Linked DNA regions of Homo sapiens. The protein of the gene in region 3 purifies or fractionates together with the protein of the main gene of each other region. This does not show direct contact. Each region holds a gene or a part of one and is shown on either strand. Other genes may lie near its edges.

Region 1 (3,701 bases), on a different chromosome or scaffold from region 3:
GTATGAATTCAAGATAAAATGATTTAGTCATAGGCAAATAATAATTTTATATTCAGAATGTGAACAGAATTACAATGACAAATTAGGAAATACAGTTGCACTGCAAAGTAAAAAGATGCTATGAAGGAAAAGTTGGGATTCAGCAAGTAGTGTCAGCCAATGAACCATCAGCATTCAAGACTGGCTCTATAAAGCAGAATCCATGGCAAATAAAACTTAAATTTTCTTTAAATTTACAAAGGAAAACCAAAACTATGTGTACCTGATACAGTTAGTTAATTTACTTTCTCAAATTGTAATGTAGAATCAACTTGGTCACTTATGTTCCCAGCTATTGTGATGTATAACCCTATAGGTATAGTATATATAAATGCAGCAACAACATTTTATCATTGAGCAACTGTACTCAATAATTATATGTTGAATAAATTAAATATTCTGCCAATCATCCCACTACTCAGCTGCAACTAGATGACAAATTTTCTTCTTTTTTGAGATGGAATTTTGCTCGTCACCCAGGCTGGAGTACAATGGCGCAATCTTGGCTCACTGCAACCTCTGCCTCCCAGGTTCAAGCAATTCTCCTGCCTCAGCCTCCGGAGAAGCTGGGATTACAGGCACCTCCCACCATGCCTGGCTAATTTGTGTATTTTTAGTAGACACAGGGTTTCACCATGTTGGCCAGGCTGGTCTCGAACTCCTGACCTCAGATGATCTGCCCGCCTCAGCCTCCCAAATTGCTGGGATTATAGACGTGAACCACCGCACCTGGCCTTTTTTTTTTTTTAAATTTTTTTTTTTTTTTTGAGATGGAGTCTTGCTCCATTGCCCAGCCTGGATTGCAGTGGTATGATCTCAGCTCACTGCAACCTCTGCCTCCCGAGTTCAAGTGATGCCCTTGCCTCAGCCTCCCAAGTAGCTGGGATTACAGGTACCCACCACCACACCCAACTAATTTTTGTATTTTTAGTAGAGGCGAGGTTTTGCCATGTTGGCCAGGCTGGTCTTGAACTCCTGAGCTCTGGTGACCTGCCCACCTCGGCCTCCCAAAGTGCTGGGATTACAGGCATGAGCCACCACGCCTTGCCTAGATAGCAAATTTTCATTCACATAAGGTGGCATAAACAATATCCATCCTGACAATGTCCAAATGATAAGGCCAATTTGATCTAGGAGGGAAAATATGGAAGATGACGACGAAGTGGGAAAAAAGGGCAAGAAGAATGTTTAAAAATATAATAGTACTAACATGGTTTCGGCTATGGTAAAGTACAAAGATTATATTAATAAATAGCAATAAAGGCTATTTTTAGGAAGAAGAAAGCAAAAGCAAAGAGAATATATATGTATAACTTTGCTTTTATCTGGGAAGAGAGAAAAAAGAGAATATATATATATAACAACTGAGAAGACAAGAAACTTGGGAAAAACAACATAATTTGTTAGGGAAGAGACTAGGCATTCAGATTTTTTAAAGATGCATACAAATGAAAGAAAAGCTAACCATGGTAGACTATCCTTGGGATAAGTTTGTTTGTTTGTTCTGAGACACAATTTCATTCTGTCACCCAGGCTGAAGTGCAGTGGCACAATCTCAGCTCACTGCAACCTCCACCTCTTGGGTTCAAGTGATTCTCGTGCCTCAGCCTCTCAAACAGCTGGGATTACAGGCACGTGTTATCATGCCCAGCTAATTTTTGTATTTTTAGTAGAGATGGGGTTTCGCCATGTTGGCCAGGGTGGTCTTGAACTCCTGACCTCAAGTGATCCACCTACCTCGGCCTCCCACAGTGCTGGGATTACAGGCGTGAGCCACTGCACCCGGGTTTTTTTTCTTTTCTTTTCTTTTCTTTTCAGATGGAGTTTTGCTCTTGTCACCCAGGCTGGAGTGCAATGGTGCAATCTTGGCTCACAGCAACCTCCACCTCCTGGATTCAAGCGATTCTCCTGCTTCAGCCTCCCAAGTCACTGTATTACAGGCGCCCACCACCAAGCCTAGCTAATGTTTGTATTTTTAGTAGAGACAGGGTTTCACCACGTTGGCCAGGCTGGTCTTGAACTTCTGACCTGAGGTGATCCACCCGCCTTGGCCTCCCTGAGTGCTGGGATTACAGGTGTGGGCCACCACGCCCGGCCATGAGTGAGAATTTTTATAAATTACTGGAAGAATATTTCTACTTTTGTAAAAGTTAATTTTACAAAATGACTTGGACTCTCTCATATACTGATATTTGGTAGCTTTTCTTCTGTTTTAAACAGTGAAAAGAATACAGTGTTTAAGATTCTTGAAAGTCCTACCTTATATGGGCTAATTAGTCTTCTTTTAATATCCAGTCTGTAGCTTCTGTATTGTTCGGCATCACTCATGTCAGTTACCAGTAGTCGAAGAATTTCATAAACCCTTCTAGCGTGTTGCTAGAATGAAACAAAAGAAAATGCGAACATTTTCAAAGTAAAAATAATGACACTTTCCCAAAAGAACACAGGATATATTTAATATCTGCCATGAGCAAGGAATTGTGCTAGAAACCAGAGGAAAGGCAATAAAAGTAGTTGCCCTCAAGCAGTCTAGTGGGTAACACAAATGATTATGGTATGGATAATTTAATGTGGCACGATCATAGTTCACTGCAGCCTCAACCTCCTAGACTCAAGCCATCCTCCCACCTCAGCCTCCTGAGCAGCTGGGACCATAGGCATATGCACCACACTCGGCTATTTTTTTTTTTTTTTTTTTTTGTAGAAATGGGATCTCACTTTGTTGCCCAGGCTGATCTTCAACTCCCAGCTTCAAGCAATCCTCCTGCCTCAACCTCCCAAAGTATTAGAGTTACTGGCGTAAGCCACTGCCCCAGCCTTCATGACAGATTTTAAATAGGAATGTAAGCAATATGCACAAATTTTGAGTTTTAAATAAGTCACTCTTTCAGCTACAAAGAAATGGTAGCAAAAAGAAGTGCATAGAGACCAATCAAGAAGCTGAGTTATTACATCACATAAAAAACGATGAGGGCATGAACTGGAACAGCACAAGAAGACCAAGGGGTCAAGGACTCTAGAAACATATGAGAGGAAAAACTGAGAGAAGGATGTGAAAATGTGAGTTTTCACAGCCTAGGAGAGATTTGGGAGGCAGCAGAAAATAGAAAATCTGAAGAAAATTCTAGTCTAAGGGCAAGGATTTAAGCAATGTCAGTATATAGGTAAGAGTTAAAACCATAAGGCTGGTTAAGGTCACCTGAGGAAAGCATATACAGTGATAAAAGGAGAAAGGTCAGAAACCTGCTAGTACAGTGACAGTTAAAAAGCAGACAGGGCTGGACATGGTGGCTCATGCCTGTAGTTCCAGCACTTTGGGAGGCCAAGGTGGGCAGATCGCTTGAGCCTAGCAGTTTGAGAACAGCCTGTAGGAACCCTGTCTCTACAAAAATTAGCCAGGTGTGGTGGCGTACCCCTGCAGTCCCAGCTACTTGGGAGGCTGAGGTGGGAGAGTCATTTGAGCCCAGGAGGTTGAGGCTGCAGTGAGCCGTAGCCGTGATTACACCACTGTACTCCACCTCAGGTGACAGAGCAAGAGACCCTGTCTCAAAAAAAAAAAAAAAGGAAAAGGAAAAAAAAAGACAAATGGTATCAAGGAAATATCAGAAGAATCAGGAAGTTTTTGGTAGCACTGAAGCCAAAGGAGAACCACAGTTTTTCTG
Region 2 (3,325 bases), on a different chromosome or scaffold from region 3:
ATAAATAGCCTATCTGAAGACTGGTTTTTATTATAACTAACCGTATCTTCGAAATCTCTTGCAGCTATGAAATACTATCTGCCTTATGCCATTGCTCATAAGAGTAATATGACATCATTGTAACTTTCAGGGAATACTCACTTTCAGGAAGAATTTGAATCCCTGTATGATTACCAACCAGGCATGCCCTTAAAGATTTACATTATGAAAGCAGGTAGAGAGCAGAAATTATCTCCACTCACCCTTAGTAGCTGAGGGATGGAGAAAGGTTGTGGTGAGGGACGTAGTTATAATTGAGGCAATTATGAACCAATATTTGAATTATGTTATTTTAACACTCCTGTAAGAGATTTGAAAGCAGTCACCCCTCAGCCCAAATCCAGGATCCACCACTGCTGCAGTCGGACATAATATATGTTCAGCAGCAAGGGTTAATGATTAGCATCAGTCATTTATCTGCAAGTTCCAAAGATGTACGAGTCCCCAGTGATGCTGAAAAGTGGAGGCCTGATGGGGTTGCTAGTATTCTGGCCAATATATTTCTGTGATGTTGACTTTTTTCAATGAATAACTTATAAAAACTGTCTCATCAGGGTGATAGAACAGATCACTCATGAACTCTCATGGATTCTGCCTTATGGAATGATTGGTTAATAGTCATTGAACATAAACTTTCAAATTTTTCTGTAACTATTTAATCAGTCTCATAATCTGAAAGATTCTGCATTTAAAAAAATTGTATATATGTTGGAACAAATTATAATAAGAAATGACATGATTGCTCTAATATGTAACTTAGTTTGGGTCTAGCTTGATTCAGAAAATATGTTGATTTCTAGACCAAAAGTTTTAGAATATAGGTTTGAATATAGTTTTATAACACGGTTAAAATTCTTAACTAGCTATTTTAGTTTGGTTGGTGGTTCATTTAAAAAGTTGTGTTTCAGGCTGGGCGTGGTGGCTCACGCCTGTAATCCCAGCACTTTGGGAGGCCAAGGAGGGCAGATCACGAGGTCAGGAGATTGAGACCATCCTGGCTAACACGGTGAAACCTCGTCTCTACTAAAAATACAAAAACAAAAAATCAGCCAGGTGTGGTGGCGGGAGTCTGTAGTCCCAGCTACTCAGGAGGCTGAGGCAGGAGAAGAGTGTGAACCCGGGAGGCGGAGCTTGCAGTGAGCCGAGATCATGCCACTGCACTCCAGCCTGGGAGACAGAGCGAGACTCTATCTCAAAAAAAAAAAAGTTGTCACTCAATAAAAAAGCATGTTTGGTATTTGCCTAAGCCTCTCAATTCTAGTGGGTGTTTTGCTAGAATTTTGTAGGTGGCAAGGGGCATATTAAATCACAAACAATACTAATGCTTAGTTTTCGTATATTTTAAAACAAAGAAAAACTCTTGATAATCATTGAGCAGATATTATAATACAGAAATTAAGAAAAATTTATAGTTATGAAATGTAAATTTGGAACAAGAAGACATTTCTGCAGGAGTCCAGTCTCCTAAGCTGTGTGTTTATCTCATTTTTAAAGCAATTAACCTTGGTAAATTATTACTTTATCTTATGTTTTGAGATATATATGTAATATATATTTTTTACTAAGGTCCCTCTTCCTTTTTCAAATACTAATATGTTTAACAGTTCCTCTTGCAAAACACTTTTTTTTTTATCATTTGGTTAAAGGACAAAAATTATTACTGCTAAAGTGGTTTGAGTAGATTGTAACTCTAAAATATTCAAATAATCTCCTTAATATTTATATTGAGGTTTTAAACACAAACTCATGACTTACCACAAACATTACTTCCCATTTTGACATGGGCATAACCATCTACTCCCCAAGAACTTCCCCAGGAATTCCGCACAATCCAATATGGAGTGCTTCCTACAGTGAAACATAAATAGTAACAAATCCTGAAAACTCAAATTTGTTATGAATGTTTAAGTTTCTTTATTTTAAGTTGGATTCTTGCTAAGGATAGTAGCTCTGAGAAGAAGATTAAAAATGTAATTTAATGGTAACTTAAACTACTTTATTTTAACTAAGTAAACCTGAGCAGTACTTACGGACACTCTCCAATCAGTAGAAATATATGTTTGAATTCACTTCCCTTTATACAGGGACTGCATAAAATGAAAACAAACACTAATTTCCAAGGAATCAGAAAAAGAAAAAAGAACTTTTAGATACGTATGATAAAATAATATGCACTTACCTTTTCCCAACAATTATTCTAAATGTTCCCGATACAGTTTTATATCAACAAAAATTATCATCATTTTAACAGGATATCCACTCAAAAATTGACAGGTGGAATCTGACAAGACATTTACATTGGGAACAGGCCCCCCAAATCCGGCCATAAACTGGTCCCAAAACTGGCCATAAGCAAAATCTCTGCAGCACTGTGACATGTTCGTGATGGCCATGACGCCCACGCTGGAAGGTTGTGGGTTTACCGGAATTAGGGCAAGGAACACCTGGCCGAACCCTGGGCAGAAAACTGCTTAAAGGCGTTCTTAAGCCACAAACAATAACATCAGCAATCTTGTGCCTTAAGGACATGCTCCTGCTGCAGACAACTAGTCAGACCTATCCCTTTATTTCGGCCCATCCCTTTATTTCCCATAAGGAATACTTTTAGTCAATCTATAATCTATAGAAACAATGCTTATCCCTGGCTTGCTGTCAATAAATATGTGGGTAAAGCTCTGTTCGGGGCTCTCAGCTCTGAAGGCTGTGAGACCCCTGATTTCCCACTCCACACTCTATATTTCTGTGTGTGTGTCTTTAATTCCTCTAGCGCCGCTGGGTTAGGGTCTCCACAACTGAGCTGGTCTCGGCACATTTACTCCTATAAGATTGTTGAGAAGTTGTGAAGGTCTTATGAGGACTTAATCATAGCAGAACCAAATTTCAATGTTCTACAGTATGGTGATCATTTTGCACTCAGTGTCCATGCTGGAAAGCAGTCAACTGAGTCTTATCAGCACTTACCTGTTTTATCAAACCCAGTTATGAGAACTGCATGATTTGCTTCTCCACTAGAGCAGTGATGCTGTATAATGCCTCCCAGATAATCTTGCCAGCTCACTGCATCTACTATGACTACCAAAGGGCCAAAGGTAAGAAGTGCTTTTGCCATTTCATCTTCTTGGTCACTACCAAAAGAGGAAATATTTGGTTAGAAAATTTAGTTTTTAAGGTAAAAATAACAATGATCTATATAATCTGTGTATGATTCTGAGTAGGTTTGGTTGCAGTTACAAAGGACCTAAACAATGGAAGCTAAGTCTGAGAGACTGGTAGTCTATGGCTGGGA
Region 3 (3,708 bases):
TGGGAGGCAATGAACAACTGAAGAGAGATTTACATTTGTGGGGTTTCTAGAAAAAGACCAACAAATATGACTGCAAGAATGTTCTGGCAGCCCTGGGTCCTGTCCGGGTTGTTAAGCATTAATCCACAGGTTTGTAATGGTGAGTTTTCTGTGGTTCTGCACCTCGCTTTGGCAAAGTTCTTTGATTCTGGAACAGTAGTAGCTGCATAGAAAGTGGTGGCAGTGGGTGTGACCTTTAATTGAGAATTAGAATGTCAGGAGCTCCCAGGGTCAAGGAAATCATCATGAGTGGAGGAGTATTTGAAGCTACCCTCCTGTCATGGGGTCCAGGCTGGATGAGAGACTCAGTGGGCCTGGGCATGTTCTCATGAAGTTGGGAAGGTAGGTGCCTGAAGGATTCTGGTGTGGCTGAATGACAGGTTCTTTGGGTGTGGGACAGTGGGAGAGGCGACTAATAAGGAGGCTGTGGTCAGAGAGGGGAATGCAAATTTGTGGATGGGGTGAGAGCCATGACATGCTAAGTTCCAGGGTGTGCCCAGGATGGTATGCAGATGAAGTGTTTGTGCGGTGTCCTGACTGACAAAAATCATGTTCTGTGTGTTGGCCAGGAATAGTATTCAGCAATTAGGTTTATGACTAAGGGGAGTGTGTGTGTGTGTGTGTGTGTGTGTGTGTGTGTGTGTGTTTGTTGTGTGCATGCACATTGCATGTATAGTAGCCCTTACCTCTAAAAACAATTAAATAACATTTCTTTCCTTCTCATAAATATGCTCACAATTCTCATCAAAATGCTTATTAACATATTATATAAGATAATGGATCAGCAATAATGATCCGGAGGCTTTTGCTGTTGGGCCATTCATTTATTTGGTTCTTCGTTATACAGATTGTGGCTTTTCATGAATGGGCCTGTGTATGGCTCTGTCTTTCTGGATGTGTCCCTCTTAGCTCCATTCTATTTTATTAATTTCCCAAAGGGCAGGCACTATTTTATGTCCCTGCTACCCCCATAGCAATTCACACAGTTCTGTCTACCTAATCAATGTTTTCTGAATGAAAAGACCACAGTTGTTTTCCATCCTGACAACTTGTCTCCCCAAATAGGAAAGATGAGTATAGCAATGACATCAGCTAATACGGAGAATCTTGGAAGAGGGTTTTCTTCCAAGTGTACTTTAGTACATGGTGCTACAATGACATGTTCAGTCTCTGTTATCTTCAGAATGGGAAAACTCATTTCTCCTGCCTTCAAAAACATTCAAGTTTTCTCAATTGCCATCCCTTGTTTGCCTTTCTTTTCTTTCTGCCCTCATCCAATATTCCTCTTTCACTGTGATATCAAATTCCTTGGTCATGCAGTTATCATTTGTCTTTGACACTCTTCCCTTTTCTATGTGATGATCTTTTTCTTCCTTCTTTCTCTCCTTCTAATGGGGTTCTTCAGTTGGCCTTCCACTAAGAAGCTCTCTGAGAAGTCCAAGGAAAGCTGATAAACTTCAGCTCCTCTGAGAATACTTCCACTTTAACAGGTGATTTTAAAAAACAGAGATACATTCAAAAATAAAAAATAATAAAACTAGCAAGTAAGTGACAGGTAGTGGAGATTGTCCCTAAATTACTAGCATCTATCCATTTTCCCTATTCCTGCATGGGGACCTAACTGTAATTTTGGAGAAGGAATTGACTCAAGTTTCTCACCTATAAAGCGGTTATAATAATACCTGCCTCTTGGGGCTGTTTGTAGGGGCATAAATGATATAATTGACGTGAAAGTGCTTCCTAAACTACAAAGAGTTTTCCAACTCTTCCTCTACCTTCTAACACTGAATTGGAAATTGTGCCCTAAGGCTCACTCCTGCAAGAGAGGGCAGATAAGTGATAATTGGGGCTTTAACACCAGAGGAGCTGAACTGCCTCACAGTAATTATTCACCTGAAAGGAAGGAGGTTTGACCAGCAATCTCTAACATCTTTTCTGGTCCAAAACCTGTGATTATAAAAAAAGCACTTAATTGGATATTGTTTTATATTATGTTCCAGATATCTCGATTTTCCCAACTACCCTGTAAACTCCTAGAGGCCAGGGGCCATATCTTATAGACCTCATGTAGCTTCTATAATAATTAGCATAATGCTAGACACCTAGGAGATATACAAGAAATGCACCTACTATGAAATGATTCAGTGATATTCATTTCCTGTATTTATTTATTTATTTATTTTTTGAAACAGAGTCTCGCTTTGTTGGCCAGGCTGGAGTGCAGTGGCGTGATCATGGCTCACTGCATCCTCAACTTCCTGAGTGCAAGTGATTCTCTCACCTAAGCCTCCCAAGTAGCTGGGACTACAGGCGTGTACTACCTGGCTATTTTTTTGTATTTTGGAGGGGGTAGAGACAGGGTTTTGTCATGATGCCCTTGAACCACCCAGATCAAGCAATCTGCCCGCTTCTGCCTTCTAAAGTGCTGGGATTACAGCCGAGAGCCACCGCACCAGTCCTTCTAAGGAGTAAAAAATTTTATTTTGGCTGGGCGCGGTGGCTCACGCCTGTAATCCCAGCACTTTGGGAGGCCAAGGCGGGTGGATCATGAGGTCAGGAGATCGAGACCATCCTGGCTAACATGGTGAAACCCCGTCTCTACTAAAAAATACAAAAAATTAGCCAGGCATGGTGGCGGGCGCCTGTAGTCCCACCTACTCGGGGGGCTGAGGCAGGAGAATGGCGTGAACCCGGGAGGCGGAGCTTGCAGTGAGCCGAGACCGTGCCACCGCACTCCAGCCTGGGCGACAGAGCGAGATTCCGTCAAAAAAAAAATTAAATTTTAAATTTTTAATTTTTTTTTACTTTTTGAAATGGAGTCTCGCTCTGTCATCCAGGCTGGAGTGCAGTGGCACAGTCTCGGCTCACTCCAACCTCCACCTCCTGAGCTCAAGCAATTCTCCTGCCTCAGCCTCCTGAGTAGCTGGGACTACAGGCGCCCGTCACCACGCCCAGCTAATTTTCTAGTTTTAGTAGAAAACTAGAAAGTAGAAAGCTATGTTGGCCAGGCTGGTCTTGAACTCTTGACCTCAGGTGATCCGCCTGCCTTGGCCTCCTATATGGACTTAACTGTGAGGCTGGTGCTTCCACTGAGAAGACAAACTTACCACACTCTCTCCATTCAGTGTATTTCCGTTTCCTAACAAAGCTCCTCTGTGTTCTGCCACTGTGTGGTAGAGAGGGCAGGCAGTCAAACACTGGGGGTGAGCTAACTTCTTAACTAGGTGACTCTTTTTTTTTTTTTTTTTTTTGAGATGGAATCTTGTTCTGTGGCCCAGGCTGGAGTGCAATGTCATGATCTTGGCTCACTGTGGCCTCCGCCTCCCGGGTTCAAGTGATTCTCCTGCCTCAGCCTCTGGGTAGCTGGGATTACAGGCACCTGCCACCACGCCGGGCTAATTTTTGTATTTTTAGTAGAGACAGGGTTTCACCATGTTGGCCAGGCTGGTCTCGAACTCCTGACCTCATGTGATCTGCCCGCCTCAGCCTTCCAAAGTGCTGGGATTACAGGCTTGAGCCACCATGCCCAGTTTAATTAAGTGACTCTTAATCTCTTTGAATCTTGGTTTCATCATCTGCAAGATAGACACAATATCTTCCCTGCCTGCTCCAGGGGTTATGAAGATGAAATCAGAGCTCGAATGGAGGTCAAGCTTTTAAAAACTGCAA
Region 4 (3,701 bases), on a different chromosome or scaffold from region 3:
ACTTTCCTCTTAGCCCTGCTTTTGCTGTATCCCAGGGATTTGGATATTTTGTTTCTATTTTCACTTGTTTCAAAACATATTTTGATTTGTGCTTTAATTCTTTTGTTTACCCAAAAGTCATTCAGCAGCAAGTTGTTTGTTTGGTTTCCATGTTCTTATGTGGTTTTTGATAGTTCCTCTTGGTATGATTCCTGATTTTATTCCACTGTGGTCTGAGAAGATGCTTGATATGATTTTGATGTTTTTAAATGTATTAAGATTTGCTATATGGCCAATCATATAGTCAATTTTAGAGACTGTTCTGTGCACAGATGAGAAAAACATACATTCTGTGGTTGTTGGATGCAGTGTTCTGTGGTGTTTACTGGGTCCATTTGGTCAAGAGTCCAATTTAAGTCCAGATTTTCTTTGTTGTTTTCTGCCTCAGTGTTCTATCTAGTGCCGTCAGCATGGTGTTGAAACCCCCTACTATTATTGTAAGGCTGTCTATCTCTTCTCTTTAGGTCTAGTAGTATTTGTTTTCTAAATCTTGGTGCTCCGATGTTGAGTAAACATACATTTAAAATAGTAGAATTTTCTGATTGAATTGAACCCTTTATCATTATATAATACCCTTCTTTGTCTTTTTTTTTTAATGTGTTTGTTTTAAAGTCTCTTCTATCTCACACAGGAATAGCAACCCTTACTCTTTTTTGTTTTCCATTTGTGTGATAGATCTTTCTCCATTCTGTTGTTTTGAGACTGTGGCTGTCATAATGTGTGACATTGGTCTCTTGAAAACAGTAGATGGTTGGGTCTTGTTTTTTTTAATCTAGTTTGCCAATCTGTGTTTCTCAGGTGGGGCTTTTATGCTGTTATGTTCAAGGTTAATATTGATATGTGAGGTTTTGTTCCTGCCATAGTGTTGTTAGCTAGTTACTTTGTATTCTCAATTGTGTAATTGCTTTATAGGATCCGTGTACTTTGGCCTTATGTGTACTTTTATGGTAGCAAGCATTGTTCTTTTGTTTTCATGTTTAGAACTTCTTTGAGCTTTTCTTGTAGGACTGGTCTGGTAAAGAAGAGTTCCCTTAGCATTTGCTCATCTGGGAAAACTTTATTTGTCCTTCATTTATGAGGTGTAGTTTGGCAGGGTATAAAATTCTTGGCTGACTTTTTTTTTTTTTCCTTTAGAGAGTTAAAAATATACCCCCAATCTCTTCTTGCTTGTAAGGCTTCTACAGAGAAGTCCACTGTTAGTCTAATGGTATTTCCTTTATGGGTAATTTATCCCTTTTTTTCAGGTGCCTCCCTTTGAGAATTTTTTTTTCATGTTGACCTTGGATAGTCTGATAATTATAGGCCTTGGTGACTATCATCTTCTGTAGTATCTTGCGAGAGTTTTCTAAATTTCTTATATCTGGATGTTGATGATTCTAGCAAGGTTAGTAAGATTTTCCTGAATTACTGTCTCCAATATGTTTTCCAGGTTGCTTTCTTTTTCTTCTTCTCTCTCAGGAATACCAACCAGTTGTATGTTTGTTCACTTTACATAATCCCATATTTTTCAAAGGCTTTCTTCATTTTTCTAAATTCTTTTTTATTTTTGTCTGACTGGATTAATTTGAAAGACCACATTTCAAGCTCTGAAATTCTTTCTTCTGCTTGTCTAGGTTATTGTTAAAGCTTCCAACTGTATTTTGAAATTCTTTCCATGAATTTTTTCATTCCAGAAGTTCTAATTGTTTGGGTTTTTTTTCTTTTTTTGACATAGCTGTCTCATCTTTTATAGCCTGAATTGTTTTTCTGGTTTCTTTGTATTGGATTTCAACTTTCTCTTGGATCTCATTGAGTTTCCTTAAAATCCATATTTTGAATTATTTGTCTGCCATTTCAGACTTTTCATTTTTGTTAGGACCTATTGCTACAGAGCAAATGAAATACTTTGGAGGTGTCAATCCACTCTAGGTTTTTTTTTGCTACTAGAGTTCTTGCACTGATTCCTTCTCATATGAGGGATCTGTCACGTTTATTTTTTAATTTTCTGTCCTTTTGATAGGACTTTTACATTTTGTAATTCTTTTTTATCTTGAGGGTATGTTGTATGTTGTGTATGATCATTTGGCCTCCTTTCCAGGTGCTTTCAGAGGACCAAGGTGCTGTATGGGTCCTTCATTGTGGGTAGCTTTTGTGTGGTGGCTTTCTCGGATGCTGCTTGTTGTAGCAATATATTTGACATATGAGCTAACACTCTATCTACTGCTTGGCTGAGGGTATGGAAGTCTCATCACATACACTAGCACTCAGCCCTTCTGGCAGCAGGTGTTTTATTTGGTGGTGGAGTTCAAGCTCTAGTCCAGTAGGTGGCACTTAAGAGTAAGAGCTGGCCCACCCACAGGTAGATTGATGATGAGCGGAAGCACCTGCCCTGATATAGAGGGGAGGAGATTTTGTTGGAGCATGCTGAGGTCTTTGGGGAAGGAGCAGTTGGGGAAGTGCACCAGCTCCTCATCCTGACCAGGCAGGAATGCCAGCTGCTTCCCCTATCACACCATGTCACAGGGCTCCCAGCCTTCAGTTCATAAAGACTTTTTCCTTTGGTTCCCAGCTGCAATGTGGCTATGGGCTACTGATATACCATTTTGGCAGCTACCACCAAGATGGTCTTGGGGCAGAGCCCCTTCCCCCAGTCCAGAGCAGACAACTCTGTGGCTTGTCTGTGTCCTCCATTGCCAGGATGCTGCTGTTTTGTGTAGGGTCAGGGAGTTGGGCCCTGCCCTTTGTGCAAGCCCAAGCAGCATGGGCTCACTTTCAGCGAGTGTGGATTCACTACAAAAAGTGTGATAAGTGCTTTCTCCAGGTGCACATATACCAGCCCCCAGCCAGAAGAACCACTACTGCATCCTCAACAGTGGCTAAAGGTGGCAAGGGGTGGATGACTCCCTCTCCACAACCCTTCCTAGCCATCAGTGCTACCCCCTTCACCGATTGGTGCCACTTCCTTCATTTCCTTTGTCCCAAGGGAGACTTTAGTGGGCTGTGCTCCCCATTGCCTTCAGGGCAGCCCACCAAGGGTGAGATCTCCAGGGCTCCCACAGCTCCACAGGGACCCAACAGCCCCATGTTTGCCAGAGACAGAATGGGTTGTGGGGTATGTTTGTGGGGAATCTCGTGGTGTGGTGACTCAAGGGCAGAGATTCCCTGGGCAGGGCAGTGTCCCACCACAGGTGCACAACCAGCATGGCTCAGTTCAGCCATGTCAGTTCAGGTCTGAGGGGAGTGTAGGCATGCTTAACATGAGCTGGCCACCTGGTTCTTTGCCCCTGGAAAATTCCCCCAAGTCACCACTGACAGCATTGCCCGTGATCCAGAGGGCAGAGGGGCTCCCCAACAGTTTGACAGTCAGTGAATTGTTGCAGGGGTGAAGGGAGCAGAGAAGCACACCCACTACCCCTTAGCACAGGGTTCTGAGTTCCTCAGGGGTCAATCTCTGCCAGACCCTTGCTGCTTTTTTTTTCTGCATCTCAGCTTTTTCCCCTGGGCACTCTGTCAGGTCCTGGATCTCTTCTGTAAGTTTTGCATTTGGAACTTGTCCATTCACAGATAACTTTGATCTTTCTGAAAAGAGCTGGCATCTGATGTCACTAGACAGGCATCTTGAAAACCAGCAGCTTGATGGTGACTGTTATAGAACAAAGTGAACATACTCAATGCTACTGAAC

Evidence for each region.
Region 1: the proteins of CSTA (region 3) and HAT1 purify together in Homo sapiens (affinity purification with mass spectrometry; one large-scale study listed by BioGRID and IntAct). This does not show direct contact.
Region 2: the proteins of CSTA (region 3) and CTSO purify together in Homo sapiens (affinity purification with mass spectrometry; one large-scale study listed by BioGRID and IntAct). This does not show direct contact.
Region 4: the proteins of CSTA (region 3) and RNLS purify together in Homo sapiens (pull-down; one study listed by IntAct). This does not show direct contact.

The regions. Positions count from the first base shown.
Region 1 is NC_000002.12:171,977,961-171,981,661, reverse strand, and holds part of HAT1 (histone acetyltransferase type B catalytic subunit), read right to left. Parts: intron 2,416-3,701; coding exon 2,299-2,415; intron 1-2,298. UniProt on the Homo sapiens protein: Histone acetyltransferase that plays a role in different biological processes including cell cycle progression, glucose metabolism, histone production or DNA damage repair. Coordinates histone production and acetylation via H4 promoter binding.
Region 2 is NC_000004.12:155,926,542-155,929,866, forward strand, and holds part of CTSO (cathepsin O preproprotein), read right to left. Parts: intron 3,165-3,325; coding exon 3,001-3,164; intron 1,888-3,000; coding exon 1,795-1,887; intron 1-1,794. UniProt on the Homo sapiens protein: Proteolytic enzyme possibly involved in normal cellular protein degradation and turnover.
Region 3 is NC_000003.12:122,328,082-122,331,789, reverse strand, and holds part of CSTA (cystatin-A), read right to left. Parts: intron 1-3,708. UniProt on the Homo sapiens protein: This is an intracellular thiol proteinase inhibitor. Has an important role in desmosome-mediated cell-cell adhesion in the lower levels of the epidermis.
Region 4 is NC_000010.11:88,317,618-88,321,318, reverse strand, and holds part of RNLS (renalase isoform 1 precursor), read left to right. Parts: intron 1-3,701. UniProt on the Homo sapiens protein: Catalyzes the oxidation of the less abundant 1,2-dihydro-beta-NAD(P) and 1,6-dihydro-beta-NAD(P) to form beta-NAD(P)(+). The enzyme hormone is secreted by the kidney, and circulates in blood and modulates cardiac function and systemic blood pressure.